Homo sapiens: one gene and its partner. The protein of the gene in region 2 purifies or fractionates together with the protein of the main gene of each other region. This does not show direct contact. Each region holds a gene or a part of one and is shown on either strand. Other genes may lie near its edges.

Region 1 (7,965 bases), about 120 Mb from region 2:
TTCAAATGTTATGAAGGAATTGCAGAGGGAAAAAAATAATAATAAAACCATAGACTTTACAAAGCCTATTTCTGTAAACTGTACTTGGCCCTGAGTTTTAATTTAAATCTATTCCTGTATATGAAACTGAAACTTTATTAAAGCTATTTAAGACAGAAATCTCCTTCCTTTTACAAAAAATAATTGTGTACACAGTATTGCCACAATAAACTGGTTAAAGCTCTTTACTGAAACTTTTAACAGTCTAACTTCTGAAACTCAATGATAGCTGTAGTGATGGAATATTACTATTATTGGGCTGTAAAACTTTAGGATGGGCATAGTGGCTCATGCCTATTGTAATCTCAGCACTTCAGGAAGCCGAAGTGGGAAGATGGAGCCCAGGAGTTTGAGACCAGCCAGGACAGACAACATAGTGAGACCCTGTCTCTAGGAAAAAAAAAAAAAAGAAAAGAAAAACAAAATTAGCCAGGCATGGTGACATACACCTGTTGTCCCAGCCGCTCGGGAGGCTAAGGCAGGAGGTTTGCTTGAGCCCGGGACGTTGAGGCACAGTGAGCTATGATTATACCACTGTACTCCAGCAGGGGTAACAGAAGGAGACCTTTTCTCAGAGGAAAAACACACACAGACACAGAAAATAATAACTGTTGGTAAGAACATGAAGAAATTGGAACCATTGTGTACTGACTGTAAAATGGTACAATGAGGCTGGGCATGGTGGCTCACACCTGTAATCCTAGCACTTTGGGAGGCCATGGTGGGAGGATCACTTTGAGGCGAAGACCAGCCTGAGCAACACAGTGAGACTCTGTCTCTAAAAAACAAACAAACAAACAAAAAACACACAACAAAAAAAAAAAAAACAGTACAATCACTATGAAAAACAGTATAGAGGTTCTTCAAAAATGTTAAAAACAGAATTACATTATGAGCCAGGTGCAGTGGTTCATGCCTATCTCAGGACTTTGTGGAGCGGAGGCATGTGCATCACTTGAGGTTAGGAGTTCAAGACCAGCCTAGCCAACATGGTGAAATCCCATCTCTACTAAAAATACAAAAAATTAGCTGGGCGTGGTGGTGCACACCTGTAGTGCCAGCTACTCGGGAGACTGAGGCAGGATAATTGTTTGAACCCAGGAGACGGATGCTGCAGTGAGCCGAGATCGTGCCACTGCACTCCTGCCTGGGTGATACAGTGAGACTCCATCTCAAAAAAAATGGTTAAGGCCAGGCACAGTGGCTCCTGCTTGTAATCCCAGCACTTTGGGAGGCTGAGGCAGGCAGATCACTTGAGGTCAGGAATTCCAGACCACCCTGGCCAACATGGTAAAACCCCGTCTCTACTAAAAATACAAAAATTAGCCAGGTGTGGTGGCATGCACCTGTAGTCCCAGCTACTCAGGAGGCTGAGGCAGGAGAATCACTTGAACCCAGGAGTGAGCTGAGATCACGCCACTGCACTCCAGCCTGGAGGAGAGAGCAAGACTCCGACTCAAAAAAAAAAAATTAAGACAGTAAAATTTTGCTATGCATTTATCACAATTTATAAAAAAAAAAATCAAGTGTCACAAGCATATACAGCATGCCAACTTTCTTCTAAGAATGTGAAAATAAGAATATACACAGTAAAAACTGGAATGAACTCCAGAGCTCAGAGACAGAAGCAAGACTTAACTACTTTTTCTTCAGCCTCCGTCTCCTGGGTGCAAGCAATTCTCCTGCCTCATCCTTCAGAGTAGCTGGGATTACAGGCATGTGCCACCACGCCTGGCTAATTTTTGTATTTTTAGTAGAGATGGGGTTTCACCATGTTGGCCAGGCTGGTCTCAAACTCCTGACCCCAGGTGATCTGCCCCCCTCGGCCTCCCAAAGTGCTGGGATTACAGATGTGAGCCACCACGCCCAGCCAGTACTTTTTCAATATAGTATTTAATTTTATTCCTTCTTGGTCACAGGTGCTTAAAAATTTTTTTTCAGTAGATTTTAAACCATGTAAATAACGTATTAAAAAAACTAAATTACGTCTGGGTGCAGTGGCTCATGCCTTGTAATCCTAGTATTTTGGGAGGCTGAGGAGGGAGGAACCGATGACCCCAGGAGTTCGAGCCCAGACTGGGCAACATGGCAAAACCCAGACTATACCAAAAAACACAAAAAATTAGCCAGGCATGGTGGTGCGCACTTGTCGTTCCAGCTACTTGGGAGGCTGAGGTGGGAGGATCACCCAAACCTGCGAGGTTGAGGCTACAGGGAGCCAAAACTGCACCACTACACTCCAGCCTAGGTAACAGATTGAGATCTTGTCTCAAAAACAAACAAACAAAAAAACTAAATTAAGAGGGAGAAAAAGCAAACCCTAATAATGAATACAAACAAAAACTGTGAAATTTGATAATCAAAATAAACAAATTCAACAAACAAGCTGAAAAATGTTATTTCAAGTAACTTTTGAAGAAAGTTCATCTTTAATGCAGTATACGCTAAGAAAAAAAAGGACTGGAAAAAAAACTGCACTTGGTAGGGTTATTGTTAGTAAAATACTGGCATTATAAATCTGACTCTGTTTTCTGTGTAGAAAATGCCACTAATGTTAACTTTGATTAGGAATTTAAAATACCAATGTAGGCCAGGCACAGTGGCTCACGTCTGTAATCCCAACACTTTGAGAGGCCAAAGTGAGCGGATCACTTAAGGCCAGGGGTTCGAGACCAGCCTGGCCAATATGGTAAAACCCCATCTCTACTAAAAATACAAAAATTAGCCAGACGCCTGTAATCCTAGCTGCTCGGGAGGCTGAGGCACAAGAATCGCTTCAACCCAGGAGGCAGAGGTTGCAATGAGCCAAGATTGCACAACTGCACTCCAGCCTAGGTGACAGAGGGAGACTGTCTCAAAAAATAAATAAAATAAAATACCAATGTAAGCTGATGATTTTTAATATCATGTTTTCTAGCTCTGTCCACTGAAAAGGGCATACAAGCAAATGCATACACCACCAAGCATCCAAATCCTGGTTTATAAATAATATTTTCTACCAAAAGAACTGGGACTCCTTGGAGAAATGGGAAGATACAAAAGGAAAGGAAAAGACAAGAAGGACTTGGGTTATTGTTTTGCCAAAAAAGCAAAGGAGCCCTCAAATTAACTGGGGTTAGTGCCAGGTGCTTGGGAGACTGAGGTAGGAGAATCACTTGAGCCCAGGAGTTCCAGGCTGCAGGCAGCTATGATCTTGCCACTGCACTCTAGCCTGGGCAACGAAGTGAGACCCAGTCTCAAAAAAAAAAAAAAAAAAAAAGACCAAAAGCAATAAGGGCCAAATACCTGCTCCTGCTTAAAGACTAAAGAGATACGAAATATCTAGATTGGGACCGGGTGCGGTGGCTCACACCCGTAATCCCAGCACTTTGGGAGGCCGAGGAGGGTGGATCACAAGGTCAGGAGATCGAGACCATCCTGGCTAACACGGTGAAACCCTGTCTCTACTAAAAATACAAAAAATTAGCCAGGCATGGTGGCGGGCGCCTGTAGTCCCAGCTACTCGGGAGGTTGAGGCAGGAGAATGGCGTGAACCCGGGAGGCGGAGCTTGCAGTGAGCCAAGATCATCCCAGCCTGGGAGACAGAGCGAGACTCTGTCTCAAAAAATAAATAAAAAAAGAAAAGAAATATCTAGATTGGATACTGGATTAGAGAAAGAAAAATTCTGTGAGATGTTACTGAGACAACTAGAGAAATTTGAGTATGAATTTTCAATACTATATAAATGTTCAATGTCCAGAATTAGTTAATATTGCGGGTACTTAACTTGTTCTTGAGCAGAGAAGTGCGGAGAAGTGCATATCTGTGAATAACACTAAATGGCTCCGAAAATAATACATGAGGGGCTGGGAGGCAGGAAGGGAGGAATAAAGCAAATGTGACAAAATGTTAAAAATGGGTGAATCAGAATAAAAAGTACATAGGAGTTCTTTGAACTATTCTTCCAACTCTTCTGTTAGTTCATATTTATTTCAAAATTTAAACATTTAAACACGAAAGGGGGAAAGCAAAAGCTCTTTATTACAGAAAACAGTTAATGAATATAAACAAATAACAAAATTAGAAAACCCCCAATAAATGACTCAGCTAATAATCATCAATCATTAAGTGAAAAATATTTTGAGAAGTGAGGTACTCACATGATGCTAAAGTTATCACCCCACAGATCAAGTATAACTGCAAAGGGAAAAATATACCTCTTTGATGAAGAAATCCAATGGACACATTAACCAGGTAAATTTGGCATTGTAAATAACGCAAGCTAACATCTGGCAGTCCCTACCACCTTATTGAAGGCTCATAGCTAGAAGTATATCCTCACAACATAAATCACGTATCATCACCTGTGAAGTTTTTTCTTTTTTTTTTTTTTTTTTTTTTTTTTTTTGAGACAGGGTTCTCTTGTCGCCTAGGCTGGAGTACAGCAGCAGGATGTCGGCTCACTGCAGCCTCCACCTCTCTGGCTCAAGCCATCCTCCTGTCTCAACCTCCCAAGTAGCTGGGACTACAGGCGCAGGCCACCAAACCCAGCATTTTTTTTTCTTTTTTTAAAATAGAGACAGGGTTTTGCCAAATTGTCCAGGCTGGTCTTGAACTCCTGGGCTCTAGCAATCCATCTGCCTCAGCCTCTCAAAGTGCTGGGATTACAGACATGAGCCAGCGCACCTGGCCTCTATGAAGTATTTTTGCCAAAAATATTTGACCCAAATTTAGTCAAACCTCTCTAGATCTAACTTCTAGTTTACAGGAAATAAAAGGAATAGAGAAACAACAGGAATTGAGAAACAAAATACATGACATTTTAAGCATACAATAAGAAATTCCAAAATATGGAACGTTCTTTAAAAAGATGAGGCTAGCTGTTTGTGGTGACAGAGTCAGGAAGGGGCAGCAGGTGCCAGGTCCGGCCTCAAAGGTGGCAAGAAGAACCCTTTGAAACTGCCCAAAAAGCAGGCCAAGAAGATGAATAAGGCTTTCAAGCAGAAACAAGAAAAGGAACGAAAGAAACACAAGGAGCTAAAAGCGAAAGCCTCCTGGAAGGGGCTCCGGCCACAGGTGGAATTTAAAAATCTGGCAGAAAGTAAGCTGTGCCCTGTGCCTGAAGCAATGGTGACCCTTGATTTCATTCGTATTTAAACATCTGTATTCCCTGCCATAATATCTGTTGCCACCTATAGCTGGAATGAAGTGTCGTCTTGAAGCTGGAGTCTACTGCACATTAAAGAATAAACTTTTGTTTAAAAAAAAAAAAAAAACCGCAGGTGTGGTGGCTCACACCTGTAATCCTAGCACTTTGTGAGGCCAAGGTGGGCAGATTGCTTGAGCTGGGAGGTTGAGGCTGCAGTGAGCTGTGATTGTGCCACTGCACTCCAACCTGGATGACAAAGTAAGACCCTGTCTCAAAATAAACAAAATTTTAAAATTTTAAATAAAAAATATTAATAAAATAAATTAAAATGCTTACAGTGGCTCATCATCTCTTTAGTTGTTTTTCTTTTTCTTTTTTTTTTTTTTTTTGAGACAGTCTCGCTCTGTTGCCCTGGCTGCAGTGCAGTGGCACAATTTCAGCTCACTACAACCTCCACCTCCTGGGTTCAAGCGATTCTCATGCCTCAGTCTCCCGAGTAGCTGGGACTACAGGCATGCGCAACCACACCCGGCTAATTTTTGTATTTTTAGTAGAGACGAGGTTACACAATGTTGGCCAGGCTGGTCTCAAACTCCTGACCTCAGGTGATCTGCTCACCTCAGCCTCCCAAGTGCTGGGATTACAGGCGTGAGCCACTGCGCCCGGCCTCTCTTTAGTTGTTTTCACTCCATTCCTGCCTTAGCTATGAATTTAAAGTAAAACCAGCCCAGAATCTTGCCAGAGACTGCTCTTTGGTCTTTGTTCTACCCTAAACTCTGTGTAACCTAGAATTAAACCAACTCTTCAACAACTGTGGAACAAAGCCAAAAAAAAATAGAACTACACCAACTCATTCGAAAAAAAAAAAAAGATGATGCTAAAGATTTCATGCTAATTGCCTTAGGTATGATAATGATTTTATATGTTTTCAGCTGGAGACTGGCTTGAAATAAAAATGTAGAAAAGCGTAGGAAAAAGCATTATTTCAAAGACATGCATCCTGAGGTATTACAGGGAAAAGCAGTATATCTGCAATTTAATTTCAAATCATTCAAGAAAGGGAGGATATAGAGTTAAAGCAAAATGGTTAAATGTTGGTTAACAGTCGAATCCAAACAGAAGGCATATGGGTGTTCACTGTAGTATTCTTTCACCTTTGCTGCATGTTTGAAATTTTTTTTTTTAAGACGGCATTTCACTCTTGTTGCCCAGGCTGAAGTACAATGCGCAATCTCAGCTCACTGCAACCTCCGCCTCCAAGGTTGAAGCAATTCTCTTGCCTCAGCTTCCCAAGTAGCTGGGATTACAGGAATGTGCCACCACGCCCAGCTAATTTTTTTTGTATTTAGTAGGGATGGGGTTTCACCATGTTGGCCAGGCTGGTCTTGAACTCCTGACCTCAGGTGATCCACCTGCCTCGGCCTCCCAAAGTGCTGGGATTACAGATGTGAGCCACTGCACCTGGCTTGAAATTTCTTAAAGTTGCAAAAAAGTTACCAGAATATTCCATATACCAAAAAAGGAAAATTGCTGCTCCACCTACTAAGTTGAGAGCAAACAGAGTAGAGAGCAGGTGCCTATAACAACAAACTGCCTAAAGCACAGTTTTGCACGTATCATCCCACTCAAGGATCTGCTCAAAATGGTAAGGCATAGAGGCAGGTACTAATGGGACACAAAGTAACAGAAGGCAGTCACACAGACACTAGACTAACTAAACAAGTTATGAATAAATGAGAGTCACTGAAGACCTCATTAATTGGATTTAGCTGGATTTTAAGGACTGAACAGAATAGGAATAGTGTGAAAGGAAGGAGAATACAATCTAGGCAAAGAGTTAATAAGCAACAGCCAAAGATCAGAAATAAACCAAGTCATGAGGGGAATTTTTGTAGAAAATTCATTCTTCAATTTGTATAATGCCTAGGTTTTAGGAATACAAAAATATAAGGTACTATAGCACGTCTTCAACGTGCTCACAAAGAGCTGGCAGCAGGGACTCATGACTCCCAAGACTTTGAAAGGCTGAAGTGGGAGGATCGCTTGAGCCTAGGAATTAGAGGCTACAGTGAGCCATGATCATGCCACTGTATTCCAGCCTGGGTGACAAAGTGAGACCCTGTCTCAGAAAACAAACAAACAAACTAAAAACCAAAGTATTCACAAGTAGTGGAGAAGGTATAGTCAAAATACATTAAAGATATATACAAAATGCTTTAATAGCAGAGAAAGGAGTGATTAACTTATCAGAGGAATGAGATTGTCAGTAAATTTCAACAAAGATATTTGAGTTAATGTTTAAAACTGAAAATGATGTCACCAATTAAATTCATCACAGAAAGAAAAAAAATGTTAACATTTAAAGAATGCCTACTATATATGAGGCACTTTTTACCTTTAGGTTTTATAGTTAACATTCTTATATACAAAGAAACTGAAGCTTAGAGAGTTTAATTAACTGACCCAATATAAAAAAGGTAGTTAATGGTGAGCCTGGCATTCAAACCTAGGTCCATTTGCTGCTGAAACCCATACATGCCCTTTCCAATACTACCTAGCTCTGGGAATTTATAAGCACACAAATCATGAGTACAAGATACAATACAACTTTAGAAAGTCAGTCACTACCAGAAAATTAGTAAAATGTTTAAGGGCCAGACAGATGAGAGTAGCACTGCTCAGATTTTCCAATACACTGAAGAGCTTCAGTCTCTAGGACTAATGTAAATGGTTTGAAATGGGGAGATAAATGTTACCAAAGAAAAATCATTTTCAGCAGAGCGCGGTGGCTCATGCC
Region 2 (8,179 bases):
AACAGGTGTTGATACAGAAGATCAAACAACTGTGGATGAGAGCCGCCATAAATTCCTGGCCTTCCACTTTTTAAACATTTTTTATTTGTAATTATTGTGGATACCCTGGCCTTCCACTTTAACTGGCCCTCAATGTTGCCTGGCTGTTTTCTCCATTTCATTTCCATATCAACTATTTTCAAACTTTCTTCCCTTTCCCAAATTTTCCAACCTTCTATCCTCTTCTTCACTTGAGGCATGGGCCATCTTCTGCATCAAAAAAATAAACAGTCCATTTGTAAATTTCCTCAACTTCATGTTGGTACAATAATTAAGAATACATGTACCAACAGGGTACCAACCTGCCCACATCTGTCTCCTTCTATTTCTCCTCTATAGATAGAATAGACCTCTCTTTCCACAATGAAACTTTCCACCATTCTACTCTACGTACTCCCTCCCTCCTTCTGAGGAACTCAACACTGCTGTGTCATTGACATTTTCCTCACTGTCTGCTCTTTACCATCCAATCCAAATTTAAACATACTACAGCCATGTTCATCCCCAAATTAAAATCCCTTGACTCTAAGCTCCTTTAGTTCCCACTTTATTCTTTCCCCAGACCACCTCCCAGGGCAGTGGACCCTCTTGTACTTCCTCACCTTCTACTCGCTCCTCAATTCGCTATACTCTGGCTTTTACCAATCACTTTTCTGAAACTGTCCTTGCTGCTCAGTAGTCATTTCAGTCTTTTTTTTTTTTTTGAGACAAGGTCCCCCTATGTTGCCCAGTCTGGCCTTCAACTCCTGGGCTCAAGTGATCCTCCCGCCTCAGCCTCCCAAGTAGCTGGAACTATAGGTGTCAGTCCCTATCTTGTTCTCTTGGCAGCCGTTGTCACTCCTAAGGAGTACCTGCTCCTTCCTCAAGCACCTCTCCCTTGGCTTCTCTGACCTGATGCTCTCATCTTGTCTTGCTGGCTTTCCTGTTTCCTTCACATATTCAGCCACCTCTGCCTACCCTTTAAATGTTGATATTCCGAGGGTTTGCTCCTTGGCCAACTTCTCAATCTTCATTCTCATCTTTCTGACATGCTAAGGACTTCCAAGCCTGTATTTGTAACCCAGATTGTTCTTCTGAATTCTAGACCTTTAATACATACACGTGACACTAGGTATCTCTACTAGGATCTCTCCCGGGACTTCATATTCAAGATGCCAAACTAGTTTCCACCACATGCCCCGTACTTGCTCTACTTTCTTCCTGAAATGCTTTGTCTTCAGATATTGATGTGGTTGGCTCCTTTGTATCATTTGGGTCTCAGTTCCAACGTCACCTTCTCAGATGCTTTCCCTTGACTACCTCCTCTAATTTGCCCTTCACAGCAAGCCACAACCCAGCATCAGTTATCTTAATACAACTACATGAAGTTATTGTACCTACTTATGTCTTCTTTCAGGCTACTAAATGAAAGCTTCCTAAGAACAGAGGCATTGTCCATCTTATTCACTGCTGTATTGCTACAGTACCTGGCATGTAGCACATCACAAAAAATACTTATTGAATGAACAAAACTCCTCAATTTTGAACCTTGGAAAGATTATGCTAAATGAAAGATGCCAGAGACAAAAGAGTATGTATTGTATGATCACACTTACATGAAATGTCCAGAACAGGCAAATCTATAAAGAAGTAGATTAGTGGTTGCTTAGGGCTGGAGAGGTAGTGGGGATTGTCTATGACTGCTAATGAATACAAGGTATCTCTTGGGAGTGATGAAAATGTGCTGGAATTAGAGAGAGGTGATGGTTGTATAACTCTATGTTAAGAACGACTGAATTATACTCTTTAAATGAGTTGTATGGTATGTAAATTGTGAGTTGTATGGTATGTAAACTGTATCTCAATAAAGCTGTTACGAAACAACCAAATTCCCAAATTTACTCCAGAGTTGCCCCATCTCTTATACTCCTTGAGTGAATAACACTACCCTTTCCCAACTGCCAAACTTAGGAATCTGATCATAACATCCTCTCTGCCCTGCCTTCCCTCCCCACAACCACCCTTCCAGATACAGCTGATCAGCCACAAAATCCTGAAGATCTCATTTGCATACTCTCTCACACTCACATCACTCACTACAGGCTCTCGTCAGCTAGACTTAGAATCTTTCAATATCTCACTGAATCTGCTCTACTCAATCCATGCTTTTATTCATCCATGCTTTTATTCATCTGCTACACTGCTGCCAGGAGAGATTTTCCTAAAACATAATTCCCACAATATCCATGCTTGCTTAATAGCCTTCGCTGGCTCCCTGTAATTGACTTGATAAAGGTCCAAACTCCTGTGTATACGAGGTGCTTCCTAAACTGGACCTCAACTGCCTGTCGCTTCATCTGCTAACTCAACTCTTTAGCTACAGCCATGAGGAATCTGGCCACAAGCTGTGACCACTCTCACTTTCATATGTGCCACTTCCACTGCCTAGAACATCCTGGGCCCCCCAGTCTTTAACTCCTACTCATTCTTTAGGACTCAGCTCAGGCATCACATTTTTCAGGATCCACGAGGTATCCTTTTTTCCTCAATCTGTCAGAAATCCCTTTTCCATACTTTCACAGTGCTCAGTGCAATGCCTGCCTGCGTTCTTAGATTAGCTATTATTTACAAAGCACCTACCGCGATGTTCACTCTTCAAGTTTTATCTTATTTCCATATGAGAAAACGGGTTCAGTGAGATTGTTGTCCTACTAATTGGTCAAGTAGATAATGGACTTCAGGTCTGACTTCAAAGTAATAGTCTCCTATTATTCCAAAGTATCTCTCCAATATTTCCCACTGTGCACTGTAATTCTCTCCAAAAGAGCGAGAGCAATTAACTGGGCCCTCTGTTGCGTCTATATCCCCATGTGTGGTGCTTGACACTTGCTCAGTGTTTGCTCATCACAGGAAGACATGACAGGTGTGAACTAAGCAGAAGGAAACGGACTATGTCCCAAGCAGGTGCTCAATGAAGCCTTACTGAATGATTGTGTAAAGGAGATACTTTCTACCTTTTGGAAAGCGTATATTCATGTTGTGCCAACTAGTATCTAACAATAAACATGTTGTGGGTTCGAAATGCTCATCTGTAGGAATTCAAGTTCTCTACATTTGCATCTCCCCTTCAGCAGCATTCCCGACTGATGAGGATCGTGTCCACTGAAAGGCCACTCTCCTTATGGACAGTCGAGGGCTGAGTTTTTGTCCCTAACACCTCTGCACTTTCTCTTCTCCAGCTTTACACCTTCCTTATTCTACTAGGGCCTGAGCTGAGAAGATCGAAACTCACGGCAAGTCCCTAATATTTTCTAACTTCTGGCACATGTGAAGCCCTGGTGTTAAGAAACAGACTTAATTCTTCCCTGCACGGCTGTAGCCTCATTCAGGTCCTCCTCTCATCCTGTCGGTCATAAGCTTCACCGGCTCCCTCACAGCTTGCCCTGACGCGCAGAGATCCGTGCTTGTGCTAAGTGAAAACGCTTCTTAGCGTGTACGAAAGCGAGCGGTGGCCCCGTAAAACTTTTTTTTTTCCGACTCCAACATACCCTCCCCTGAAACTGATGAAAAAGCAAAATCCCGTTCACTCTATAGCAGGCCCCTTCCGATCAACGGTCCTCCAACCCCTCGAGCCTGAGAAGCCTGGCCCGCAAGCGCGGACCAAAGGCAGGCTGCCGGGGTAGGTGGGAGCGCGGGCGACGGAGGAGGCCAGTCTCCGGTTACCCCTCGCGCCCCTCACAGCCCGTGGCTTCATTCCCTCTCTCGCTGGTCCCTTACAGGGGTCGGATCAGCAGCTGGTCGCTCTCCTCAGCAGGAATCGCAGACATCCCGAAAGTGTGAGGGCGAAGCGGGGGTGAGGAACAGGTCGCCGGGGTCTTCCTAAATTGGAAGCACAGCCACCGGTAAATAAAAAAGGAAGAACCCCATTCACCAAGAGCACAACTTCCGTCACTCCGGAGCCCGCGGCACTAGACTCCTCCCCTCGACTTCCGGTCGGGGGACGCCGCTCGCGAGGCTTCCCACCACTTGGGGTCTTGGAACCGGGGGTAGGACGTCAGGACTGCGCCTGCGCATAGTCTTGGAGGCGCGGCCCGGCGGACGTGGGCAGGAGGGCTGGAAAAGCCGGCGCTGGAGCGGGAACGGGAGTAGCTGCCTGGGCGCCAAAGGCCGCGGCACTCCCACGCGGACCCCGAAGTCCGCAACCCGGGGATGGGCCCGCGGCTGCGAGGTGAGCGCCCAGCCCTCGTCCCGCTTGGGGCCGAGCTCGCGGAGGCCTGACGGGAACACGGTCCCGAGAGCGGCGCGGACGGCCAGGAAGGATGGGTGGGGCCGCGGGGCGGGCGGAGGAGGGATGCCTGGGCTCGGGCTTGGTTCCGGGCGGGGCCGCGCTCCCGGGGCGCGGGTGGAGGAGCTTGGAACCACGCAGATCGGGCGTGGGCTTGCGGACTGCAGCTTCCCGAGCCGCTGTCGCCCCGGAGGGGCGGCAAGGCGGGCGGCCGCGGGCCGTTTCCTTGCCTCTTCCTCTGCCCCGCTTCGGCCGCCTCCCGCCTCTCAGGGTCGGGGTTGTCTGTCCCCTTCGCTGTCACATCCTCCGCACCCAGCGCTTGGAAGGTGCTCCATCACGGTGACAGACAGGTGCCAAGCAGGCTGGCGTCTGGGAGGAACTTCGGAGCCGGCTCTCCCTAGGCCCCGAGCTTGGCCGCATCCGTCCTTACTCTGGTGACCCTGGGCAGGTCACTGACTCTTCGGGCGCTTTGGCATCCTCGTTTGAAAGGGGCTGTTATCCTGCAGCCTTGCTGGTCGGTGAGGGTGAGGGTGAGAGGGATCTGTGCACCTAGCACCGTGCATGGCACGTGGTAGGCGTTTGGTACATGGGAATCGCTGTTGGGGTGTCACCTCCCCAGAAAGTTCTCGGCTTCAGTAAGCGCGTCCCCTGCCAGGCGCCCTGGCAATGCAGAGGAGTCACCGAGCTCCGCCTTTGACCAGCGTGCAGCTGGGAGAGTGAGATCAGAGACCACAGCAGATCGTGGCGCTGTGATCAGGGGGTACACTCAAGCTGTGGGTCCCTTACCCCAGCCTTGAGATCCCAGGAAGGCCTGCAGCCTGAAACGGGCCTTGAAAGGTAAGAAGTAGCCAAGTGCCTGACAGGTGAAGGACGTCCCGGGCGGTGCAAAGCAGGGGCGCGTGGAGCATCGCGCTGAGAACCAGGAGCAGCTTTGCCTTGCTGAGATCAATGAACTGTGCCCGGGTTGTGGAGGATGGAAGTGGAAAGGTGATTAGGAGCTGGGTCCTGGAGGACCTGGCGTGTCGTGCTGAAGAACGTTGACTTTGGTCTCTGACTTTGGAGAACCAGTGAAAGATTTTCAGCAGGCTAGTGGCATTAGATTCATGTTTGAAAGAAATCATTTTAATCGTTTTGGCTGCAGTGTGGGGGTAGATTTAAAGTGTTAGGGAATCCAGTAGGACAAGGTCCCTTATCCACGAAATATCCTTGGGTTTGTGAATTCCTTAAATTCATGCCAAACTTTGTATGGATGTGCATTTTTATAGGGTGAGGATCCATCACATTCATCAGTTTCTAAAAAAATAGTGTCTGTGCCCATGGTTTAGGATGACGGGGGCCCTGGTGGAGAGCTGGCTCAGAGAGCTCTTCAGGTGGGGTATACAGTGGGTCTTGGTGCCAGATTGGATGTGGGGCCTGAAGGACAGCAAGGAAATCATGATTTTCTGGCTTCCTCCAGCAATAATAGAATCTCCTGACAGGGAGAGGAGAGGAGAGGAGCAGATCTGGAGGGGAGGATGATGGGTTCAGCTTGAGACATCTTTGCATTTGATGAGCCTGCGGAGCATCCAATCGCCAATCAGGATCATTGGCCTCATTTTGATGCATGAATAATTTTTTTTTTTTTTTTTTGAGACGGAGTCTCGCTCTTTCGTCCAGGCTGGAGTGCAGTGGCGCGATCTCGGCTCACTGCAAGCTCCGCCTCCCGGGTTCACGCCATTCTCCTGCCTCAGGCTCCTGAGTAGCTGGGACTACAGGCGCCCACCACCACGCACAGCCAATTTTTTGTATTTTTAGTAGAGACGGGGTTTCACCATGTTAGCCAGGATGGTCTCGATCTCCTGACCTCGTGATCCGCCCGACTTGGCCTCCCAAAGTGCTGGGATTACAGGCGTGAGCCACCCATGAATAATTTTGAGGCAAGAATGATTTGCTTGAGAACATGCATCAAAATTGCAGCAGATATCAAAGACTTTAATAAATGCTGCTTTTTCCTAAGCCGCTGGGTTGATGATGAAAAGAAAGCCTTAAGGAGTTGCTAAGGCATTGTCGTGTCATGATTTTCATATCAAGGGATTTGAGGAGACACTTCAGGATTCCACTGACAGTAGAATCACATTTTGTTTTTAAAATAAGTTTTGATTTAAAATTCAAATCATATTTAAAATTGTTACCTATATATAAATATGTATTTATATATACTTAAGTATCTGATGTTTAAATATGTTACACATCAACATTTTAACCCGTGAGCGCCATTAACATGGCACTTTATGCTGCTACGTTAACCTAGTTTCGTGCAGGCCTTGGAATAAGGCTCTCCTGCCATCTCTCACTGACAAGTGTCCTGTGCTGGTAAGGTTCCCCTTTGCAGCAATCACCCGCAGTCTTCTTCCAACACATCTCTCACTTTTTACCCTTATCCAGTGGAGTTAGTTCGCTATCTGGCAGCCAGGGTCATCGTTTAAAAAACAGAAGACACCTGATTGTGTCGCTAAACTGCTTTTTAAAAGCCTCCATTCCAGAAGATCACAGCAGATAAGCAAAAAATAAATAAAAAGCCTTCAGAGTATTCCTCTTAAACTAAAGTCCACTGTTACCGCGGCCTGCCTGGCCTTCTGTGGCACTTTGGGCCCATTGCTGTCCTCCTGCTCCCGGACAGCCTTGACTGTTCCCTCGGGCCCCTCTCCACCCGCACGGCATTGCCTCCAGGCTATTTATGGCTGCCCGCACTTCTTTCAGAAAAAGAGCTACAGCATCTTTTTCTGAAATACCCACCCCTTCCTTCCATTAGTCTGTGTCTCCTCAACTTGTGTTAGTTTTCCTCATAGCAGTGGTTTCCTAATAATATGTTTCATGTGTGTTTTTCTTGTTGGTCTGTCTACTCTCGCTAAGAACAGGCTCCCTGAGGTCAGGGGCTCTGTTTGGTTCACTGATGCATCCCCGACACCTGGTAGGTGCTCACTGACTATCCAGGAATGAATGAATAAATCAGATTTTCCTGGTACCCCACAAATAAAGCAAAAATATAGAAGTAAATTGGATGATGAGGCTGATTAAAAAGCTTGGGCTCAGTGGTCAGACTTGGGCAAGTGGCCTAATGTCGTCCCCTAGTAAGTGGACTTAGAGTGGGGTCTCCAAATACGGAGAATCTTTGGGTTGCAGCAGGAGCTTTCACTGACTGCTGCGTGAGTTGCTCGTTCTTTTTCCTTCATCAGGTGCGTAGTTTCTCTGAAAAGCATCACCCAGGTCAGAATGAAAGGAAACTCTCTGTGCAGACCGCTGTATGTGGGACCTTTGAAGACAGTCAAATAGTGTTCAATTCTATAGTAAGCAGATTTTCTTGTTCTCTCTGGAGAATACAGTTTTTGGTAAAAAATTGATCAGGTTATCTTATTCATAAATCGTCTTGAGAGGCAGGTCACAGTTCCCTCATCTGTAAAAGGCAGATTACAGCCCACCTTCTGTGAGCCCCTTGAGGGAGAGCTTAGAGCCCTGCAGAGTGTGTGGCATATGGTATGCCCTTAAAAAGCATCAGTAGAGCAAATGGATATGTCACAAGGTTATCATGAGGCTATGACAGTAGAACTGTCCCGGGAGTTCTGTGAGCTGTGCAGCTTCATGTAGGTTAGTTAATTTGCCAAGTATAGTATATGCTGTCCTTATGCAACTGGCAAGGATGAATCTTAGTTTCCAATGCATTTATTATTATTAATTTCAAAAAAAGAAATATGTAACACAGACTCTGGGAGGCAAGGTCATCTCCTTAACTACGCTTAATAGAGAGGGGAGGTGAGGTGCTGGCACCTGGGAATGTCTTTGTGTCAGCTTTTACTTAAAGGTATTTCAAAACTTCAAGAAAAATGCACATTTCTGAGA

Evidence for each region.
Region 1: the proteins of CPSF3 (region 2) and WDR33 purify together in Homo sapiens (affinity purification with mass spectrometry; 5 studies listed by BioGRID and IntAct, with this or other methods). This does not show direct contact.

The regions. Positions count from the first base shown.
Region 1 is NC_000002.12:127,800,671-127,808,635, forward strand, and holds part of WDR33 (pre-mRNA 3' end processing protein WDR33), read right to left. Parts: intron 1-7,965. UniProt on the Homo sapiens protein: Essential for both cleavage and polyadenylation of pre-mRNA 3' ends.
Region 2 is NC_000002.12:9,419,440-9,427,618, reverse strand, and holds the start of CPSF3 (cleavage and polyadenylation specificity factor subunit 3), read right to left. Parts: upstream 3,966-8,179; 5' UTR 3,846-3,965; coding exon 3,796-3,845; exon of another isoform or gene 3,404-3,795; coding exon of another isoform or gene 3,384-3,403; exon of another isoform or gene 2,659-3,383; intron 1,087-2,658; exon of another isoform or gene 1,059-1,086; coding exon of another isoform or gene 997-1,058; intron 1-996. UniProt on the Homo sapiens protein: Component of the cleavage and polyadenylation specificity factor (CPSF) complex that plays a key role in pre-mRNA 3'-end formation, recognizing the AAUAAA signal sequence and interacting with poly(A) polymerase and other factors to bring about cleavage and poly(A) addition.